Linked DNA regions of Homo sapiens. The protein of the gene in region 3 purifies or fractionates together with the protein of the main gene of each other region. This does not show direct contact. Each region holds a gene or a part of one and is shown on either strand. Other genes may lie near its edges.

The links.
Region 1: the proteins of PHOSPHO1 (region 3) and OAT purify together in Homo sapiens (affinity purification with mass spectrometry; one large-scale study listed by BioGRID and IntAct). This does not show direct contact.
Region 2: the proteins of PHOSPHO1 (region 3) and CS purify together in Homo sapiens (affinity purification with mass spectrometry; one large-scale study listed by BioGRID and IntAct). This does not show direct contact.
Region 4: the proteins of PHOSPHO1 (region 3) and TRAP1 purify together in Homo sapiens (affinity purification with mass spectrometry; one large-scale study listed by BioGRID and IntAct). This does not show direct contact.
Region 5: the proteins of PHOSPHO1 (region 3) and GPI purify together in Homo sapiens (affinity purification with mass spectrometry; one large-scale study listed by BioGRID and IntAct). This does not show direct contact.
Region 6: the proteins of PHOSPHO1 (region 3) and GOT2 purify together in Homo sapiens (affinity purification with mass spectrometry; one large-scale study listed by BioGRID and IntAct). This does not show direct contact.

What each region holds. Positions count from the first base shown.
Region 1 is NC_000010.11:124,396,803-124,399,363, reverse strand, and holds the end of OAT (ornithine aminotransferase, mitochondrial isoform 1 precursor), read left to right. Parts: intron 1-1,261; coding exon 1,262-1,422; 3' UTR 1,423-2,061; downstream 2,062-2,561. UniProt on the Homo sapiens protein: Catalyzes the reversible interconversion of L-ornithine and 2-oxoglutarate to L-glutamate semialdehyde and L-glutamate.
Region 2 is NC_000012.12:56,293,831-56,297,330, reverse strand, and holds part of CS (citrate synthase, mitochondrial precursor), read left to right. Parts: intron 1-3,500. UniProt on the Homo sapiens protein: Key enzyme of the Krebs tricarboxylic acid cycle which catalyzes the synthesis of citrate from acetyl coenzyme A and oxaloacetate.
Region 3 is NC_000017.11:49,225,327-49,227,787, reverse strand, and holds part of PHOSPHO1 (phosphoethanolamine/phosphocholine phosphatase), read left to right. Parts: intron 1-1,029; 5' UTR 1,030-1,096; coding exon 1,097-1,141; intron 1,142-2,010; coding exon of another isoform or gene 2,011-2,132; intron 2,133-2,461. UniProt on the Homo sapiens protein: Phosphatase that has a high activity toward phosphoethanolamine (PEA) and phosphocholine (PCho). Involved in the generation of inorganic phosphate for bone mineralization.
Region 4 is NC_000016.10:3,658,525-3,662,024, forward strand, and holds part of TRAP1 (heat shock protein 75 kDa, mitochondrial isoform 1 precursor), read right to left. Parts: coding exon 3,463-3,500; intron 342-3,462; coding exon 269-341; intron 1-268.
Region 5 is NC_000019.10:34,378,696-34,382,195, forward strand, and holds part of GPI (glucose-6-phosphate isomerase), read left to right. Parts: intron 1-238; coding exon 239-310; intron 311-822; coding exon 823-867; intron 868-2,770; coding exon 2,771-2,824; intron 2,825-3,500. UniProt on the Homo sapiens protein: In the cytoplasm, catalyzes the conversion of glucose-6-phosphate to fructose-6-phosphate, the second step in glycolysis, and the reverse reaction during gluconeogenesis.
Region 6 is NC_000016.10:58,710,317-58,713,816, reverse strand, and holds part of GOT2 (aspartate aminotransferase, mitochondrial isoform 1 precursor), read left to right. Parts: intron 1-3,500. UniProt on the Homo sapiens protein: Catalyzes the irreversible transamination of the L-tryptophan metabolite L-kynurenine to form kynurenic acid (KA). As a member of the malate-aspartate shuttle, it has a key role in the intracellular NAD(H) redox balance.

The DNA.
Region 1 (2,561 bases), on a different chromosome or scaffold from region 3:
AAAAAAAAAAAAAAAAAAAAAAAAAGAATCACCTGGGGAGCTTCTTAAAAAAATGAGTCAAAGCCTGGCCTTACCCCAGGGATTCTGATTTGACGGATCTGGGACGGGGCACAGGCATTAGCAATAGCCTTTAAGGTGATTCTGATGTGCAGCCAGGTTGAGAATCGCTGCTATAATATGTTGAGCTCAGGAAGCGAGTCCCTTTTTGGAATGTGTAGTGTTCACTGGGTTTTGAGTATTGCCCATTTTATGTCAGTTAATCATCTGTATCATACCCAAGTTCTTTTTTTTCTTTTTTAGAATTTTATTTATTTTATTTATTTTATTTTTTGAGACAGTGCCTTGCTCTGTTGGGCTGGAGTGTCTGTCGCCAGGCTGGAGTACAGTGGCATGATCTTGGCTCACTGCGACCTCCACTTCCTGGGTTCAAGCGATTCTCCTGCCTCAGCCTCCTGAGTAGCTGGGACTACAGGCATGTGCCACACCACGACAGGCTAATTTTTGTATTTTTATTAGAGATGGGGTTTCACCATGTTGGCCAGGATGGTCTCGATCTCTTGACCTCATGATCTGCCCACCTCGGCCTCCCAAAGTGCTGGGATTACAGGTGTGAGCCACTGCATCCAGCCTATACCCAAGTTCTTTTGCATTAGTTCCTTGTGTGATTAATACAGCAGCCTTAGCACATTTTTTTTTTTTTTTTTGGCTTGGTCTTTTTCATTTATGAAAAACTATGATATGTCTAATCATATCATTCAAACCTAGTTATGTGCTTGCTGAAAAGTGAAGAGTAACTTCATTTTTAGGAGTAAAAACAAAGCAAGCTTGCAGCTCCAAGCTTCCCTTTCTTTTTTTTTTGAGACGGTGTCTTGCTCTGTCACCAGGCTGGAGTGCAGTGGCGCGATCTCCGCTCACTGCAGCCTCCGCCTCCTGGTTCAAGCGATTCTCCTGCCTCAGTCTCCCGAGTAGCTGGGACTACAGGTGCGCACCATGATGCCCAGCTAATTTTTGTATTTTTAGTAGAGACGGGTTTCATAATGTTGGCCAGGATGGTTTCAATCTCTTGACCTCGTGATCCACCCACCTCGGCCTCCCAAAGTGCTGGGATTACAGGCATAAGCCACCGCTCCCAGCCCAAGCTTCCCTTAGTTGAGCAAGTTCTGTTAATTTTGTTTTGCCAGGCTGCACTTTGCCCATACATACGGCAAGGGATGTTTAAACGTTTATCTTTGAGCATGTACGTTTTACTATTTTTCTTTAGATTGGGATGCTTGGAAGGTGTGTCTACGACTTCGAGATAATGGACTTCTGGCCAAGCCAACCCATGGCGACATTATCAGGTTTGCGCCTCCGCTGGTGATCAAGGAGGATGAGCTTCGAGAGTCCATTGAAATTATTAACAAGACCATCTTGTCTTTCTGAGGGTAGCCAGCTGTTTTCAGTGGTCCCTGGGAGCCAGCTGGAGACAGGTGGTCCTGTAAAAGCTTTATTCCTAATGTGGGCACATTCCACTCCCATGAGTCTTCAAAAACTTTTTTTTTGAATATATTTTTTTCAGTTGATACATAATAGAACAACGTTTATGAACCTGCCGTTTGCTTTGTAACGTAACTAAATAATGTAATGGCATCTATATTCAGTTGAAGTGTTTTGATGTGCATGTGTACTTCCTAAGGTGAAATGCATCTATATACAGACAGCCTCTAAATCAAGTCCTTCAGTATAATTGATATATGTTTTTATAATTTCCTCACTGGTATAAGTGTTTCATATTTGAAAAAGTTATCTCTGGGTATTGCATAAAAGGCTTCATCTTATAAAGTGAAATCATTGTTATTGAATTTTAGGAAGGATTAATGGTTAAGTGTATATAAAATACTAATATTAAGTAAACTTCATATTGGCCAACACCAGGGTTGTATTCTATGGATGTCATTATTTTGAATTAAGAATTAGTGTTTAACATTCCTAAATTGTTTTGAGTGCTTGATTATAATTTGTAAAAAATGTTTATTTTCAATACTTCTTTAAATTTAAAATAAAGCTTATATTTCAAATGTCTGTTTTGTGATGATTATTCACCTTAAAAGGAAGAAGCTGAGGCAAAATTAATATAGAATGTTTAGGTGGGCCAAGGTTGGGGACTGCAGCTCGGGACACACTTCCAGGTTGCCCTGGAGAGTGCTCCAGAGAACACTTCTTAAAGAAAAAAGGATAGATCAGCTGCTCTTATACCCTCTACTGACACAAGGTGAAGGGGTGATTACAAAAGTTGTTTATCAGGAATTCTCATTGGCTTACAGAACTAACCTTGGTTAGTGATTGGCTATATGCTGTTGAACTACAGGGTATATGGCATTTGATAGATACTTGGCTTCAAGAGGTAATTATGTAGCTTGGGAGAGAGTGACCTGACTATGATTTCATTCTATTGCCTCTCTGGGCCTGATAATTTAGTTTTTATTTTTTGAGATGGAGTCTCTCTCTGTCGCCCAGGCTGCAGTGCAGTGGCACGATCTCAGCTCACTGCAACCTCCACCTCCTGGGCTCACATGATTCTC
Region 2 (3,500 bases), on a different chromosome or scaffold from region 3:
AAGCAATGGCCTTAGTATTATCTGTGGGTGACTCAGTTTTGTGACATCAAAAATGTCTTTTCACAGATGATCTGGGTTTGGATTTGGGCTAGGAATTGAAGTAGGGCTGCAGTTCACTTCTGGACTTTTGAAGTCAACATGCTTAACCAACCCTAGCTAAAGGGAACTGTCTCTTGAGCCACTGAAAATTGCTTCTCCAAGCTAGTATGTTTGAAACTGAGTAAATCAATTCAAAGATGTTTCTAGATTACTTCTAGACTTTTTCAAGACACTTAAATGCAAAGGAACCAATGGTTTCTTTACATTGGACTTATACCACTGTACAACATCACCTGTATAAGTCCTACTCAGAAATTGGGTTCAACAAAACCGAGTTGGTTTTGTCCTGCAAAATATTTAGTTAGGTTTTAAAGCCCAAATTTTTTAAAGGTAAGGGCTCATATCTCTGTGCCCTCACTTTGACTATCAGCCTACCCAAAGTAACGGTGATTCCTTGATACTAGAATGGCAGGGGAAGCCTTATGGGGTGTTAGTGGTGAGATGACTGCATTTGGTCTTCCCAGTGGCCTTTAGGTTGGTAGCAGGTGAATGAATGCATGGGGAGGCAGCAAGAATAGTATGGTAGGTAGCAGCGATAGAGTTGGCATTCCTGACTTAAAATCCAAGGGGCAGCAGAAGGGAAACCAGACTTGGTGGATTTCAATAAAGCCACACAATGATTCTTTCTGCCCTGTGTCAATACTTTATGCAACAGAGTAGGATGTGAAATTTAAAACCGTAATGAGGCAACTGTAGCAATAGATCTTTCTTAGCATCTGATTATCTTTCAGTTCTGGCTTCAACTGTGCTTCAACTGCACAAGTTCCTTAGTTCTCTGTTTTGGGTTTTTTTTGGGGGGTGGGGCTGGAGTGCAGTGGTGCGAACATGGCTTGCTATTACTACAGCCTCAACCTCATGGGCCCAAGCAATCCCCCCGAGTAGCTGGGACCACAGGCACGCACAGCCACGCCTGGCTAATTTTTTTGTAGTTTTTTTGGAGACAGTGTTTTGCCATGTTGTCCAGGCTGGTTTCGAACTCCTGGGCTCAAGCAATCCACCAGTCTCAGCTTCCCAAAGTGCTGAGATTACAGGCGTGAGCCACTGCACCCAGCCCTCTGTATTTCTTTTAACATGATGCTATTTTAAAAGGTCTGTAAACTCACAGTGGGCATTGTCACCTGTAATGCTTGCTTATGTTGCAGTTTCCTGGATCCTACCTTCAGATTACAATTCTGCAAAGTAGGATGGGATCTGGAAAAGTTTCTTGTAAATCCCTAAAGTGTCAGGGAGTTAAAACTTGTAAGAACTTCTTTTTTTTTTTTTTTTTTTTTTTTTTTTTTGAGACAGTTTCGCTCTGTCGCCTAGGCTAGAGTGCGGTGGCTCGATCCCGGCTCACTGCAAGATCCGCCTCTGGGGTTCACGCCATTCTCCTGCCTCAGCCTCCTGAGTAGCTGGGACTGTAGGCGCCCACCACCTCGCCCCGCTAATTTTTTGTATTTTTAGTAGAGACAGGGTTTCACCGTGTTAGCCAGGATGGTCTCGATCTCCTGACCTCGTGATCCGCCCGCCTCCACCTCCCACAGTGCTGGGATTACAGGCGTGAGCTGCCGCGCCCAGCCATAAAACTTCTACGAACTTCTAGCAGAAGTAAGGGAATAGTTTCTAATTCCTGAGAAAGTATTATGATGACAGATCCTATATTCTTTATTCACTAGTATATACTTAGTGTACACATAATAAGTAGGTGTTCAAGAATTTTTTTTTTTTCCTTGAGATGGAGTCTCGCTCTGTCACCCAGGCTGGAGTGCAGTGGTGTGATCTCGGCTCACTGCAACCTCTGCCTCCCGGGTTCAAGCTATTCTCCTGCCTCAGCCTCCCTAGTAGCTGGGACTACAGGCACATGCCACCACGCCGGGCTAATTTTTGTATTTTTAGTAGAGATGGGGTTTCACCATGTTGGCCAGGATGGTCTTGAACTCCTGACCTCGTGATCCACCCGCCTCAGCCTCCCAAAATGCTGGGATTACAGGCATGAGCCACCGTGCCCGGCCAAGAAATATTTATTAGCTAGGCATGATGGCTTATGTCTATAATTCCAGCACTTTGGGAGGCTGAGGTAGGAGGATCACTTGAGCCCAGTAGTTTGAGATCAGCCTGGCAACATAGCAAGACCTTGTCTCTTAAAAAAAAAAAAAAAGTTCATTAAATTAAAGTACAATAAGTGTTGGCCAGGCACAGTGGCTCACGCCTGTAATCCCAGCCCTTTGGGAGACTGAGGTGGGCAGATCACTTGAGGTCAGGAGTTCGAGACCAGCCTGGCCAACATGGTGAAACCCTGTCTCTACTAAAAATACAAAAATCAGCCAATCGTGGCAGCTGCCTGTAATCCCAGCTACTAGGGAAGCTGAGGCACAAGAATCACTTGAATCCGGGTGGCAGAGGTTGCTGTGAGCTGAGATCATGCCACTGCACTCCAGCCTGGGCAATAGAGTGAGACTCGTCTCAACAAAAGAACAGTAAGTGTTCCTACTGAAAGGAAAGTTTAATACTTGTGATTCCTGGCTGGGCATGGTGGCAGGCACCTATAATCCCAGCTACTCGGGAGGCTGAGGCAGGAGAATCGCTTGAACCCAGGGGGTGGAGGTTTCAGTGAGCCGAGATCGCACCACTGCACTCCAGCCTGGGTGACAGAGACTCTGTCTCAAAAAACAAAAATAGACTTGTGATTCCTTTCTGAAGATGGAAGCTGGAGGAGTATCTTTTGCAGTCCTCCTTACTGAGTGATCAGTGCATCTTTTTTTTTTTTTTTTTTTTTTTTGAGACAGAGTCTTGCTCTGTCGCCCAGGCTGGAGTACAGTGGCATGATCTCGGCTCACTGCAACCTCTGCCTCCTGGGTTCAAGCAATTGTCCTTTCTCAGCTTCCCGGTTAGCTGAGATTACAGGTGTGCGCCACCGTGCCCGACTAATTTTTGCATTTTTAGTAGAGACAGGGTTTCACCATCTTGGCCAGACTGGTCTTGAACCCCTCACCTCAGGTGATCGGCCTACCTTGGCCTCCCAAAGTGCTGGGATTACAGGCATGAGCCACTGCACCCAGCAGTGATCGGTGACTATTCACGTGAAGAGACTGTTGGAAAATGACAGTTAGGTAGAATTATTAAGGAAATGTCTGTAAGTATGAAGGAGGTCAAAGTATGAAATCTGTAGATTGCTCAGGCTTTTAAGTGGCCTGACCATGTAGTGCCAAACCGACTTCCAGTATCACCGTTGTGAAACACACACATTAAATGGCTTTAGTTCTCTGACCTGGTTCTGGGGAGAGAGGAGCCTTTGTCCTATTTGTGTTCGTGTTCTCTGAATGCAAGTTGTTCCTTCTGCATTGGAAGTGTCTGTAGTACAGGATTTTTTCCTACTGGTTATTAGTGTATTGTGTTTGCTCCATCAGCTAAGCCAGTCCTGC
Region 3 (2,461 bases):
ATGTGTGGTCTGGTTGTTGTGAGGGAGGGAGTACCGCAAGATGGATATTGCTAGAGCCTGTACCCTGCTCCTGGGATGTCCCCGTCTCTGTCCTGGGGCGATTGCTTCTCCCTCCTGAATAGTCAGGGGAGAGTGTCACCTTGACAGAGGGGTTTACAGTGTCACCATTGTCACCACCAGAGGGCAGCAGCCAGCCAGACCTCTGCTTCTCTCAAGGTCTTGTCTCCTGGCTCTCTTTATCTTTCCAAATCTTGTCCCAGCTGCTTCTGGTCTCATTCAACCCCAGGAGCACAGGTGGGAGAGTAGAGAGGCACTGGAAGCTGTAGGTGGTGTCCTTTGCCACTGTCTTGGTGAAGTCCCCAAGAGGTTAAACCCAGTTCCCAAAGCCACACCAAAGTCTTGCCAAGATTTCAACCTGACTCTTCTGTGTGACTGCCGGACCCCTGAGAGCAACAGGGAGGCCATTCCCAGATCATCTGTGAGACCTGGCTGGGGGTCCCAGACCCCAGCTATGGTATAGTAAGCTTTGGTCAGCTCCTTCCTTTTTGAGGGCATGAGGAAGGCAAAGCTGCAGTCAAGCGTTCATGAAGCAGTCTATGCCCCATGTAAACAGCGTGGCTGGTTAGTTAACCTCTCTGAGCCCTTCTCATTGGCTGAATTCATGACTGATGAGTAGTGAGAGAATATGAGTGAAGGTGATTTGTAAACTATGATGTGTCAAACACATTTAAGGGACAATGATGATACTAGAGAAAAAACACTGGACTCAGGCTCAGATGTGGGTTTGAGATCTGTCTGCCATTTACAGTGGGTGACTTTTGGGAAAGTCAGTTAACTTCTCTGGGTCTCCAATACCATCTGAAACCTCTCTAGAGTTGTAGGCACTGGGCCTATTTGAGGGGTTGTTTTTGCTAAGACCCTGGGAATGCCTCCTGTAGCTCAGCAGAAGGACCAGGGCCAGGTGGGTATTCCTGGTGGAAGCAAAGTCAGCTGACTGGGCACCCTCAAATGAACTTTTGTGGTTGTCAGGAACGTGTGACGACGGCTGGAGGCCAACAGAGTCCCTACAGGTGGTGCTCACGGTAATGCACCGACAATGAGTGGCTGTTTTCCAGTTTCTGGCCTCCGCTGCCTATCTAGGGTAAGTGGGTCCCTCCAGGGGTCTCCTAGGATGAGGCCTCAGCCCCCAGTTTCCCATCACCTTTCCATAGGGCCTTGGGAGAGGCCCTATCCAGCCCGTTTTAGGTTTACCCTCACCTCTACTGGGGCTTCATTAATTCCTAGAAGCTTCCATCCCAGGTGTGGGGTCCTGATGCTTTATATCTGCAATTTGAAGGATCCTGGGCCACTGAAATGCCCACTGGATGTTGATGAGACCAGAGGGTGACTCTAGGGATGAGGTGGAAGGGACAGCTTGGTTAGGGAGGCAGATAGCCAATCGAAATCCCAGCTCCGAAATGAGGAGCTTGGGTTTCTGTTTCACAAGGTGTGCCAGGCCATAAGCACACCAGGAATATGAGAGAGGGGCTTAGGAAGAAACCAGAAAGAGAAACAATCCCATCTCAATTAACTGGGGTGGGAGCTGGGCGGGAGAAAAGCAGTGTGTGGGTATCTGGAAGCTGCATGTCACCTGCTCACTGCCCCTCTGCGCCTCTCACACACTGGCAGGCAAAGGTGATGGAAACTTGCTGCCAAGGGCTCTTGCTGCCTCCATTGCTTGCCTTTCCTTGTGCCCAGACATGTCCCCTCTTGTCCTCTGTCCTCTCCCATGCTGCCTACCACCCTCCCCTCCAACAAGAATCTGGCCCAAGGTCTCCGCTTCCTGGAACTCCCTTATCCCTACCCCTACTCTGTCTTCCTGTCCAGCAGTCTGTCTCCAAGATCCCCTAGAATGACCTCCTCTCAGCCCTCTCCTCCACACCCCCCAAGTCCCCACTACCTGGCCCCTCCCACTCCTCTGCCTTTTCAGCCACTGCTGCTCTCTTCTCTTCTCCCTTACCTGTCTCCCAGGTGTGTCATGGCCTGGTGCGGGAGGCTCTTACCTCCCCAAGCCCCACTGCTTCTCCTGCTGCCCGCTTGCTTCGGACTCTGGCAGAAACCCCACCTGCTGACACGTTCCTCCTGGGGAATTGGCAAGTGATTAGTGATGAGCTGTCAGCACAGGGCCCTAAAACTCCCCGAAGAAGCTGTGCCCCATCCCTAGACCCCTGTTCAGTGCCATTGGGCTAGAAGCAGCTCCCAGAGAGCCATAGATTCCCCATGGCCCAAAAGGAGAATGAGGAAACTGGTCCAGTTGGGTGGATGGGTGGTTGGTTTCCCTTGACTCTACCTCAGGGAATGAGGGAGGGGAGAGTTCCCACCACCCTTTCTTGATCCACACCAACAACAGGGGCCACTGGAAGTCTCCAAAACAGTCCAGTCCAGAAACCTCCCCAAAGTGGTGATCCTTGGAAGCTGCTCT
Region 4 (3,500 bases), on a different chromosome or scaffold from region 3:
TACAAAATTAGCCAGGCGCATGCCTGTAGTCCCAGCTACTCGGGAGGCTGAGGCAGGGGAATTGCTTGAACCCGGGAGGCAGAGGTTGTAGTGAGCCAAGATCGCGCCACTGCACTCCAGCCTGGCAACAGAGCAACACTCCATCTCAAAAAACAAACAAACAAACAAAAAGACAGGATTTTAGAGGAAACCGCTGTTCCACCCTGAAGGCAGGCTGGCAGGGCTGGTAGCCTGGGTCCCTGCAGTCATCCTAAGCTGCTGCACTCACCTGATCCACCAGCAGCTGAGCCAGGCCAGGCTCGCTTGCGCGCAGCTGATTCAGCTTCTTGATGAGCGCGTGCCTGCAACACAGAACCCACCAGAAAAAGCAGCTCAGTACCACGTGCTGTGACCCTCCCTTCATGTTTTGGGATTATCAGGATATTTAAAGAAGCACAGTAAGACTGTCTGTAGTTTTTTAAATAAGGTATGTTAATGATCATTTATAGATAATATCATTATATACCCAGAAAACCCAAGAGAATCAGGAGTGTCAGTATTAGAAAATGCTGTAAGGTAGCCAAACTCCAAGATTAATATACACTAAAGGGACAAAAGGAGCTTAGTACGTGAAGACATGCCTTGGTTCCTAGATAAATAATAAAAGAGAAGGGAGTAAGACCCACATGTTGAAACATATTATAGGGCTCTAGTAAATAAAACAGTTTAGGTCTGGAAAGGGGGAAGGCAAACAACTCCATGTAACGAGGGTGGACACTGAGTGTCTGATGAGGACAGTATTTCACAGAAGAGGGAGGAGACAGATCACTCCATCCAGCAGCACTGGGATGACTGGGAGCCATGCAGAAAACCATTTAGACCAGAGTAAATTCCAGAGGGATCAAAGATGACAAGCACAATTCTAGGGAAGAAATGTTTCATCATCTCAGAAGGGGAAAGCCTTTCCAAGCAAAACCACAAACCAAAAAGTAAAGAATGATTGACATATTTGACGTCAGAACAATATTTTTTTCTGCATAGGAAAAAGCATCATGTAGTATTTAACCTTAACATGAATATTATAATTTTTCACTTAGAAGTCTGATAAAACCGAGGGCTCTGGGGAACTGTAAATTTGTACAACCTCTCCAGAGGACAACTGGAGTCGGGAAAACCACATGTGGATGATATGCTGAGACTCAGCCATTCCATTTCCTAACTGCATCCCTTTAAACACTTTTTTTTTTAGATAGATAGATAGATAGATAGATAGATAGACTCTCACTCCTTCACCCAAGCTAGAGTGAAATGGCATGATCTTGGCTCACCGCAGCCTCCTGGTTTCAAGAGGTTCTCTTGCCTCAGCCTCCCAAGTAACTGGGATTACAGGCACCCACCACCACCCCCAGCTAGTTTTTGTATTTTTAGTAGAGATGAGGTCTCGAACTCCTGACCTCAAGTGATCCACCCGCCTAGGCCTCCCAAAATGTTGGGATTACAGGCGTGAGGCACCGCACCCAACCTAACAGAGGAAACACTTCAAATGCACATCCTCACATTTCTAGTCTACGTAGCTGGAAAAAAAGGACATTCTTAATATGCTAATGTGGAGGTCACCTAGTTACCCTAAGGGAGAAAAGCAAGGCAAGGACCCACTGCACAGCAAGTTCCCCCTTGGAAGCCCACGGGCGCAGCTGCCCACAAATGCACATAATCTCTGCAGAAATACAAAAGCCCTAATGCTGGCTGCACTGGGGACACAGGTAGGAGGAAATTTTCCCCTGTAAGCAGTTTTGAATTCTGAACTATGTGGACAGAACACCAAATTTTAAAACAAATGAAAGTGAAGCTGGCTGGGCACAGTGGCTCTCGCCTGTAATCCCACCACTTTGGGAGGCCAAGGCTGCAGTGAGCTCTGATGGCGCCACTGGTACACTCCAGCCTAGGTGACAGAGCAAGACCCTGTCTCCAAAAGTGAAGTGGCAACAGACAGAAACGAGCACTTCTGCAGCTATCTCACAAAACTAGTTTGCCACCAAAACTAGTTAAAGTGACCTGGTGTCCGCCTCACTGAGCTGCTCCAGCAGAGGCACAGGCATTCTGCATACTGGCGCTGCTGTGCACTGACAGCCATAAGCCAAGTCAGCCTTTCCCCAGGAGTGCCATGGCTAGGAAGATGCATCTCCCTCGCCTCCAGTATAATTTTAAAAGTTATGGTTGTAAAATGACAAAAGAAAAAAACTAGACATGTACTAAAGAACAAAACAAAAACTGGCTGGGGGTGGTAGCCCACACTTGTAATCCCAGCACTTCGGGAGGCTAAGGCAGGTGGATTGTTTGAGGCCAGGAGGTAGAAGTTGCAGTGAGCTGAGATTGCCCCACTGCACTCCAACCTGGGGGACAGAGTGAGACCCTGTCTCAAAAATTAAAATACTACTTAGGCTACATTGTGGGGGGGGTGGTAAGTCTATGGATTTTGATTTCCTTTTTGCTGTTTTCTATTTTTGGTAACATGTTTATGTAACTTCATTTTTTAAAAAATTGCTACATTCAAAATTTCCCCCAAAAAAGAAACTTCATATACAAGTTAGTTCATATACAAGTTAGAAAATGAAATTTTAAAATACCCCATAAGACACATCAAAGAATAATTCTTTAAAAATGGTACCAGAACCCTACAGAGAATGTAAGGTACCAAAGGATGTTAAAGACCTAAATAGATCACATTCATGGGTGCAAAGAAGTGATACTGTAAAAAGAAAGAAACTCAAAAGATACCTAAAGGCAGGTGAAAAGACATTTACAACAGATAAAGGGCATATAAAGAACAACAGGAAGAAACGAGGGAAATCTTACGGCTCAGCCACTGTCAGGGCTGGGGGGTTCTCGGTGCACCCTGGAAGCAGCTCCCACCACCGGGGCCACAGAGAAACCCACACAAGCCCCAGACACGTGGACAAGAATACTCAGAGCAGCCTGGCTCTCCACAACTTCTGACCAAGAACCACCGGAGGCCCAGCAGAGCAGAACGGAGCAGTCTGCTGTGCCGAGGTGGGTTTCTGCAGCGGACATTATTCGGCTATGAAAATGAACTTGTGGCAGCCCCTCTGCATGGGCAACCCTCATGCCAAGTGAGCAACGTGAGACTTCAGCAAACACCAAGATCCACGTACAAAGCTCAAAACAGGCAAAACTGAGCATGTCCAGGACACGCACAGGTGGCAAAGCCATAAAGCAAAACGAGGACATGGTCACAGGCTGGGATGTGGCTAACCTCCCAGGTGACACCTGGGGATGGTAAGGGGCTGGCCAGGTTCCATTTCACATGGGTGCAGCCTAAACTGCATACAGCTCCTTATAGTTACCCACATGTCCACAGGCCTCACGCACTTTTCTTCTGTGTCACATTCCACAACAAAAGAACACCACACACAGGATTCTGGGGAATCCCACAGGCTGGAAGAGCCAGGAGCGTGGCCTCACCTGGGGTTGATCTCCAGCGTGGGCTGCAGGAGCTGTGC
Region 5 (3,500 bases), on a different chromosome or scaffold from region 3:
GAGAAGCTGCGGCCTTTGACCTGCAGGCTTAGGGTTGGGGGGTGTGTTTACCGTCCCCCCTCCTCTGGTTTTAAAGAGCTGGAATCTCAGGAGGTTATGTGGCGTCACTGTCACTGACCTGCAAATACTGCTCCATGGGACAGCTGGGCATTGCCTTGGCCTCTACTGCTGAACCCTGGCTCAAGGCCTGCACCCACCCCTAAGCTCGGGCGCCCACTGCTGTTCTCTTTGGTTGCAGACCTTTACTACCCAGGAGACCATCACGAATGCAGAGACGGCGAAGGAGTGGTTTCTCCAGGCGGCCAAGGATGTGAGTGGGCTATAGGGCCTTCCTCGTGGTTAGCCTCTGGGCTGGGAAGAGCAGGGTGGGCCCCTGAGTGACCAAGTCTGGCCGTGTTTCTCCTGAAGTTGGAAGTGAAGGCGGCCTTGCCGGTGCCTGCCTTTGCTAGATGAGATGATTGTTCATCTTGGCTTTGTCAGACCCAGCCTTGCAGATGTGACAGAACCTGCTCTCGCTGGCTGACAGCCCTTGCATGGCCCTTTCTCTGCAGGCCCTTGGCGCTGCAGGAACTCTTGGCCACACCTATTTTATAGGGGAGGGACGTCCCTGAGCCCCGTATGCTTGTAAGATGGGATGAGCAGGCGGCCTGTGACCCGTCTGCTTTCTTGACCTTGACCTCGATGTGGGCCTTCTCCAACAGTCTCAGAACCAAGGACTGGGAATCTCAGTCCCATGCAGGGCCTTGGTTCCTCTAGTGATGGGAAGTGACTACCCTTTGTCTCCCTGGGCTGGCTGTGGTAACTTGGCTCTGTCTCTTGTAGCCTTCTGCAGTGGCGAAGCACTTTGTTGCCCTGTCTACTAACACAGTAAGTGCCCCCGTGGTCCCCTGTACTGCCTTCCTGGGAGTGCCCAGCATGTCCAGGTCATGGCCTCTCAGAGACGCGGTTCGTAGGTCTGGTGGATCTTGGCTTGGCTGATGGTATGGAAGGTTTGGTTGCCTGTGGGCTGCAAGCCTTCCTTGCCTTTTCCGCATTTACCCATTCAACCTCTGCAGCTTTGAGGAGGGAGGCTTGGAGTCAGTGGGATCACGATAACCCCTTCTTCCGTCTCCCAGGCCTGACTGATACACAGAACCCTTCATACACATGACCTTCCTAGGCCTTTGTGCCCAGCATCTCCCCAAATGTGACATGCTAGGTAGGGGTAGAGGATGCATTCCATTTTTCACTTAAGGACATAAAGCCCCAATGAAGGGAGGTGACATTTTGCCCCCTACTTAGTGTGTGTGGTTTTGTTTTTTTTTTTTTTTTTTTTTTTTTTAAGACAGTCTCACTCTGTTGCCCAGGCTGGAGTGCAGTGGCGTGATCTTGGCTCACTGCAACCTCTGCCTTCCAGGTTCAAGCGATTCTCCTGCCTTAGCCTCCCGAGTAGCTGGGATTACAGGTGCACGCCACCATGCCCAGCTATTTTCGTATTTTTAGTAGAGACGGGGTTTCACCACGTTGGCCAGGCTGGTCTCTGACTCCTGACCTTAAGTGATCTGCCCACCTCAGCCTCCCAAAGTGCTGGGATTACAGGTGTGTGCCACCATGTCCAGCTTATTTTTTGAGACAAGGTCACTCTGTCACTCAGGCTAGAGTGCAGTGGTACGATCTTGGCTCACTGCAACCTCTGCCTTCTGGGTTCAAGTAATTTTTATGCCTCAGCCTGCTGATTCTGGGATTACAGGCGCCCACTACCACGTCCAGGTAATTTTTGTATTTTTGGTAGAGACAGGTTTTCTCCATGGTGGCCAGGCTGGTCTCGAATTCTTGACCTCAAGTGATCTGCCCACCTCGGCCTACCAAAGTGTTGGGATTATAGGCATGAGCCACTGTACCCGGCCCACTTAGTGACTGTATGAGTAGGTGATGCCAGGATTAGAACCTGGGTCTCCTGTCTCCAAGTTCTCACAGTCTGCCTGGCCTCGAGGTTGTGCAGGCTCAGCAGGGCATGACAGAGTGAGGGATGCTCCAGGAGTGACAGCAGCAGTCAGCCAGTGGGCACTGTGCTGTGTCAGAGCTGGGGACTACACCCACATCTCCCTCCCACCCCCTCCACCATCATCCCCACATCTCTGCCTCCAGTGCCTACCCAGCTGCAGCAGGACGCCATAAGGCTGGCTAACCATAGCACTGTTGCCTGCCTGCAACTGACTGGTCAGTAGGGCTTCTCCTCCTATGTGGAATAGGTAAGGAATTGCTGGCCCTGTCTGCCCTGGGGACCAGAATACCTGATGGCTCCTCAGAGCTTCCTGGTGCAGTCACCCTCCCACACATGGGAAGGGCTGGGTGGCTGTTCAGCCTGTGTTTGTTTGCCTGGCCTGGTAGGTGGCCCCTGCCCACACTTGGGTCCCAGTCCTAGGTTCGGTTCCCAGATGTCCAGGGGTATCATGCTCTGGTGTCCCAGGCAGGCCTGGGTGAGAGCTGTTGCAGAGCAGTGTGTGGGCCAGGTCCTCACACGGGGTTACAGCTGCCCTCAGCAGGGGGCTTTGCAGGCACAACGTCACTGGCGTGCTGGTCATGGACTGATCTGGTGTCCAGCTTGGGGTGGGCAGATCCTGGGCCCTGCCCTCGACTCACAGGCTGCTCCAGCCCTGCCCCATCCCTGGCTCTGGGGAAGGTGAGGCTCAGCTCACGGAGCACAGCTCCCTGCCTCCCGGAGCTCCTGTTCCCATCCCGCTAGCAAATGCTTCTTTGCATTTCTCTCCCTTTGTTTTTTTTTTTGTAGACCAAAGTGAAGGAGTTTGGAATTGACCCTCAAAACATGTTCGAGTTCTGGGATGTAAGTACAAGCACTTCTGCACTGGGTGAATTAAGTGTCCTTTGCCAAGTCATGGCTGTTGAGAGGCCCATGAGGTCAGGTCAGTGTTTATTGAGTACCTGCTGCATACCTAGCTTGGGGAAAGGTAGAGAGGCCCTCAGAGAGGCTTGGAGGGCAAGAGCAACCCAGGCAGGATGAGGGCTCCACTTCCACCTGAGGGCGGGCTGAGCTTGCAGGGCCACATGACACTCCCTTGGGTGCCTGCCTGCAACACCCACTGTGGGGTAACCCGAGTCCCCCTTGCCACGCTCACAGAGTTGAGGTTGTGAGTTATTCTCAGTGATGACCTTTCTCTGAACTGCAGCCACCATCTGTAAAGGCCAAGGGCAGGGTGAGGCATGAGGTATGACCGGGTAGGCCTGGAAAGGAGCAACAGGAGCTGCAGGAGGAGCTGGGGGGGTGGCGTAGAGGAGGCGCCAGGCTGGGGCAGCTTGCAGAGCAAACCCTGCCTTGAGTGACAGGGCTGCCGACCCCTCTGTAGCAACAGGTGGTCCATGGGACCACCTCTGCTGGAGCCGAGCAGTGAGCCACAGCTTTCCTTGTGCACTTGCCTGAGCTCAGCAGTGGTGTGAGGAGGGCTCTGACTGTGAAGCCCAGGGTGCAGGGGTGCAGTGCAGGGTGTGATGCAGGCACTGTG
Region 6 (3,500 bases), on a different chromosome or scaffold from region 3:
ATTACTGTTTGGCCATTTACAGAAAGAATGCCAACCCCTACTCTATGAGTTCATAAAACCATGATGCCTGTGGAAGGTGTGATTTGTTATATGAGTTTATCGTATATTTGTTATATGAGCTGCTTAGTTGAGAGGTCACATCTCTGAGCAGCTCTTGGGTAGAAAAGCTAAATCTGCTATCTCTAAGAAACTTGATATGTACCTCCCCTAGTCATCATGTGACAACTATTTTTTCTGTCTCTCTGTCCCATGAAGATTAAAGTAAATACTAAGAGTCTGGTTCAGGATAGTTTTTTTTGTTTTTTGTTTTGTTTTGTTTTGTTTTTTCCTTTTGATTTTTTATAAAGACAAGGTCTCACTGTGTTGTCCAGGCCAGTCTCAAACTCCTGGGCTCAAGTCATCCTCCCACCTCAGCCTTCCAAAGTGCTGGGATTACAGCTGTGAGCCACCGCACCCAGCTCAGGGTAGTTCTTTATGGTATAATAGGTTCATGCTAGACCTACCAAAAATTTGAGTACTTTTTAAGTTATATTTTTTTGCAGCATGATATTAACATGTAAGTATATTTCAGAAAGTTTGTGAAAGGGAAAAAATTAACCATAACTCTAGCTATTCTAACTCAGCTTTTTTTTTCCCTTACCCATTGTTTGTTTGTTTTTTCTTTATTTGTTTTTTGTTTGTGTGTGTGGTTTTTTTGTTTTTTGTGTTTTTGTTTTTGAGACAGAGTTTTGCTCTTGTTGCCCAGGCTGGAGTGCAATGGCACAATCTTGGCTCACTGCAACCTCTGCTTCCTGGGTTCAAGTGATTCTTCTGCTTCAGCCTCCCAAGTAGCTGGGATTACAGGCATGTGCTACCACGCCCAGCTAATTTTGTATTTTTAGTAGAGACGGGGTTTCTCCATGTTGGTCAGGCTGGTCTCGAACTCCCGACCTTAGCACTTCGGCCTCCCAAAGTACTGGGATTACAGGCGTGAACCACTGCGCCCAGCCACCCATTGTTATCTGTAGTTGTGACATACTGTTATATATGTATGTGCAGGACTGGTTTTGGTTTTGTCACTTAGAATTATACTAAGCTTTTTTACTTAATATTTTCAATGTTTTTAAAAATATTTTCATATTCTCTGGTTATGAAGATTTTTTTTAATGCATGCATTTCAATACACAATTTGAGAGTCTGTAGTAGACAAAGATGCCAGACTGTGTTAATGACTACCCTCAGGGTGGTTATAATCTGATGAGAAAGATACACACATGACTTTCTTGTTCTTGTTGTTGTTGTTGTTGTTGTTGTTCTTGTTGTTGTTTTGAGAGAATCTTGCTCTGTGGCCCAGGCCGGAGTGCAGTGGCACAATCTCAGCTCACTGCAACCTCCGCCTCCTGGGTTCAAGCGATTCTCCTGCCTCAGGCTCCCCTGAGCTGGGATCACAGGCACCCACCACCATGACTGGCTAATTTCTGTATTTTTAGTAGAGACTGGGTTTCACCACATTGGCCAGGCTGGTCTCAAACTCCTGACCTCAATGGATCCATCCACCTCAGCCTCCCAAAGTGCTAGGATTATAGACGTGAGCCACCGCGCCTGGCCACACATGATATTTAATATAAGACAGAATGGAATAAATGATGACTAAAGGGAGAGCTGTTGATTCTAGTGGGGAGTTAGAGAAGATGTAATGAGGACTGCGGCATGTGAGCTGTGCATTAAAGAGGGGAAAGGGCTTTTTTTTTTGCAAAGGAAATGAAACGGACAAGGAAACTGGGGAGAGATCTGAGTGAGGGCATAGGCGTGGGACGTGCATTATGCAGAACTTGTGTAGAAAGCCCCAAGTTGTTTTCGTGATGAAAACACGAATGTGAGGAGGACTGTGGGAGACAGCCAAGCTGAGAAGGTGGAGCAGATCGTGAAGCACCCTGGTTGATACTGTAAGAAGTCAACACTTGATTCTCCAGGCAACAAGGAGGATGGAGGGGTTTGGCTAAGATGGCTCCACATCTAGCCCTGTTCATGCACTCAATATCTTTGGGATCCAGGCCTCAAAGTGAATGAAGCTGGACGATGGAAACTGTAGGAAATTTAAAATCAGATGCCATAACTGGAGGGGCCAGGGGCTCCTCAGCTCCAGCCAGTAATTATTTTGCTAATACAGTGCTATCGTTTCTCATTTTTCAAGAGAAACTACAGGTTTCAGCTTTTAGGCACAAGTGCCCAATTTAAAAACGTTTCACTGGGTGAAGTAAAACATTACTAGGTCCCATATTTGGTCTTTAATTGGCAGTTTGTGATCTCTCTTCTAACCGTGCATAACATCATTATACAGAGATGGTTTAGGAAAGTGAACACCTAAGAACAGGGAGATAAACTGTAAATGGGAATGTCATTGGTGAGAGCCAAGAATGTCCCAGAGCCATGGGAATGGAGTGGAAAGGGTAGATTCTGAGGAAGGGGAAGGTTGTATTCAGAATCAGGTGATCCCCGTGCACAGTCAGAGGACTACCTTCTCCAGTCCCTCAGACAGAATTTACTCTCCTTGGGGCTTTTAGCATAGCAGTGTCCTATGTGTTTTACATTTTGTGGCCGTATTCCATACTTGGTTTACAGGTTTGGTTACAAGCACCCCTTGCAAGCTTTTGAAGGCAAGGACTATGTCTCAGTCCTCACCACCTAAAATAGCTTGGCTCATTGTAGATTCATAGTACATTGTCTCAATTGTGAAGATGGGAATGTATATTTCATCCATGTCAAAAATAAGGTCATTTTTTTTTTTTGTTTAACCCACAGCTTTTACCTTAATCTTAGTAGGTTTTAGAGTGATTCATTCACTTTTCTTTTTTTTTTTTTTTTTTTTTGAGACAGAGTCTTGCTCTCTCACCCAGGCTGGAGTGCAGTGGCGCCATCTCCGCTCACTGCAAGCTCTGCCTTCTGGGTTCACACCATTCTTCTGCCTCAGCCTCCCCAGCAGCTGAGACTACAGGCACCCGCTGCCACGCCCGGCTAATTTTTTTGTATTTTTATTAGAGACGGGGTTTCACCGTGTTAGCCAGGATGGTCTCGATCTCCTGACCTCGTGATCCGCCCGGCTAATTTTTTTGTATTTTTAGTAGAGACGGGGTTTCACCGTGTTAGCCAGGATGGTCTCGATCTCCTGACCTCGTGATCCGCCCGCCTGGGCCTCCCAAAGTGCTGGGATTACAGGCGTGAGCCACCGTGCCCCGCCCACTTTTCTTAATACAGATGCAATTATGATGGGGTTACATCCCAATAAGCCTGTCATAAGTCAGAAATGCATTTAAGGCCAGGCTTATGTCTGTAATCCTAGCATTTTGGGAGGCCAAGGTGGGAGAATCACTTGAGCCCAGGAGTTCCAGACCAGCCTGGGCAAAATGGGGAGACCCTGTCTCTACAAAAAAAAAAAAAAAAGAAAAGAAAATTAGCAAGGCATGGTGGAATGCACTTGTGGTCCCAGCTACTTGGGAGGCTGAGGCAGGAGGATCACTTGA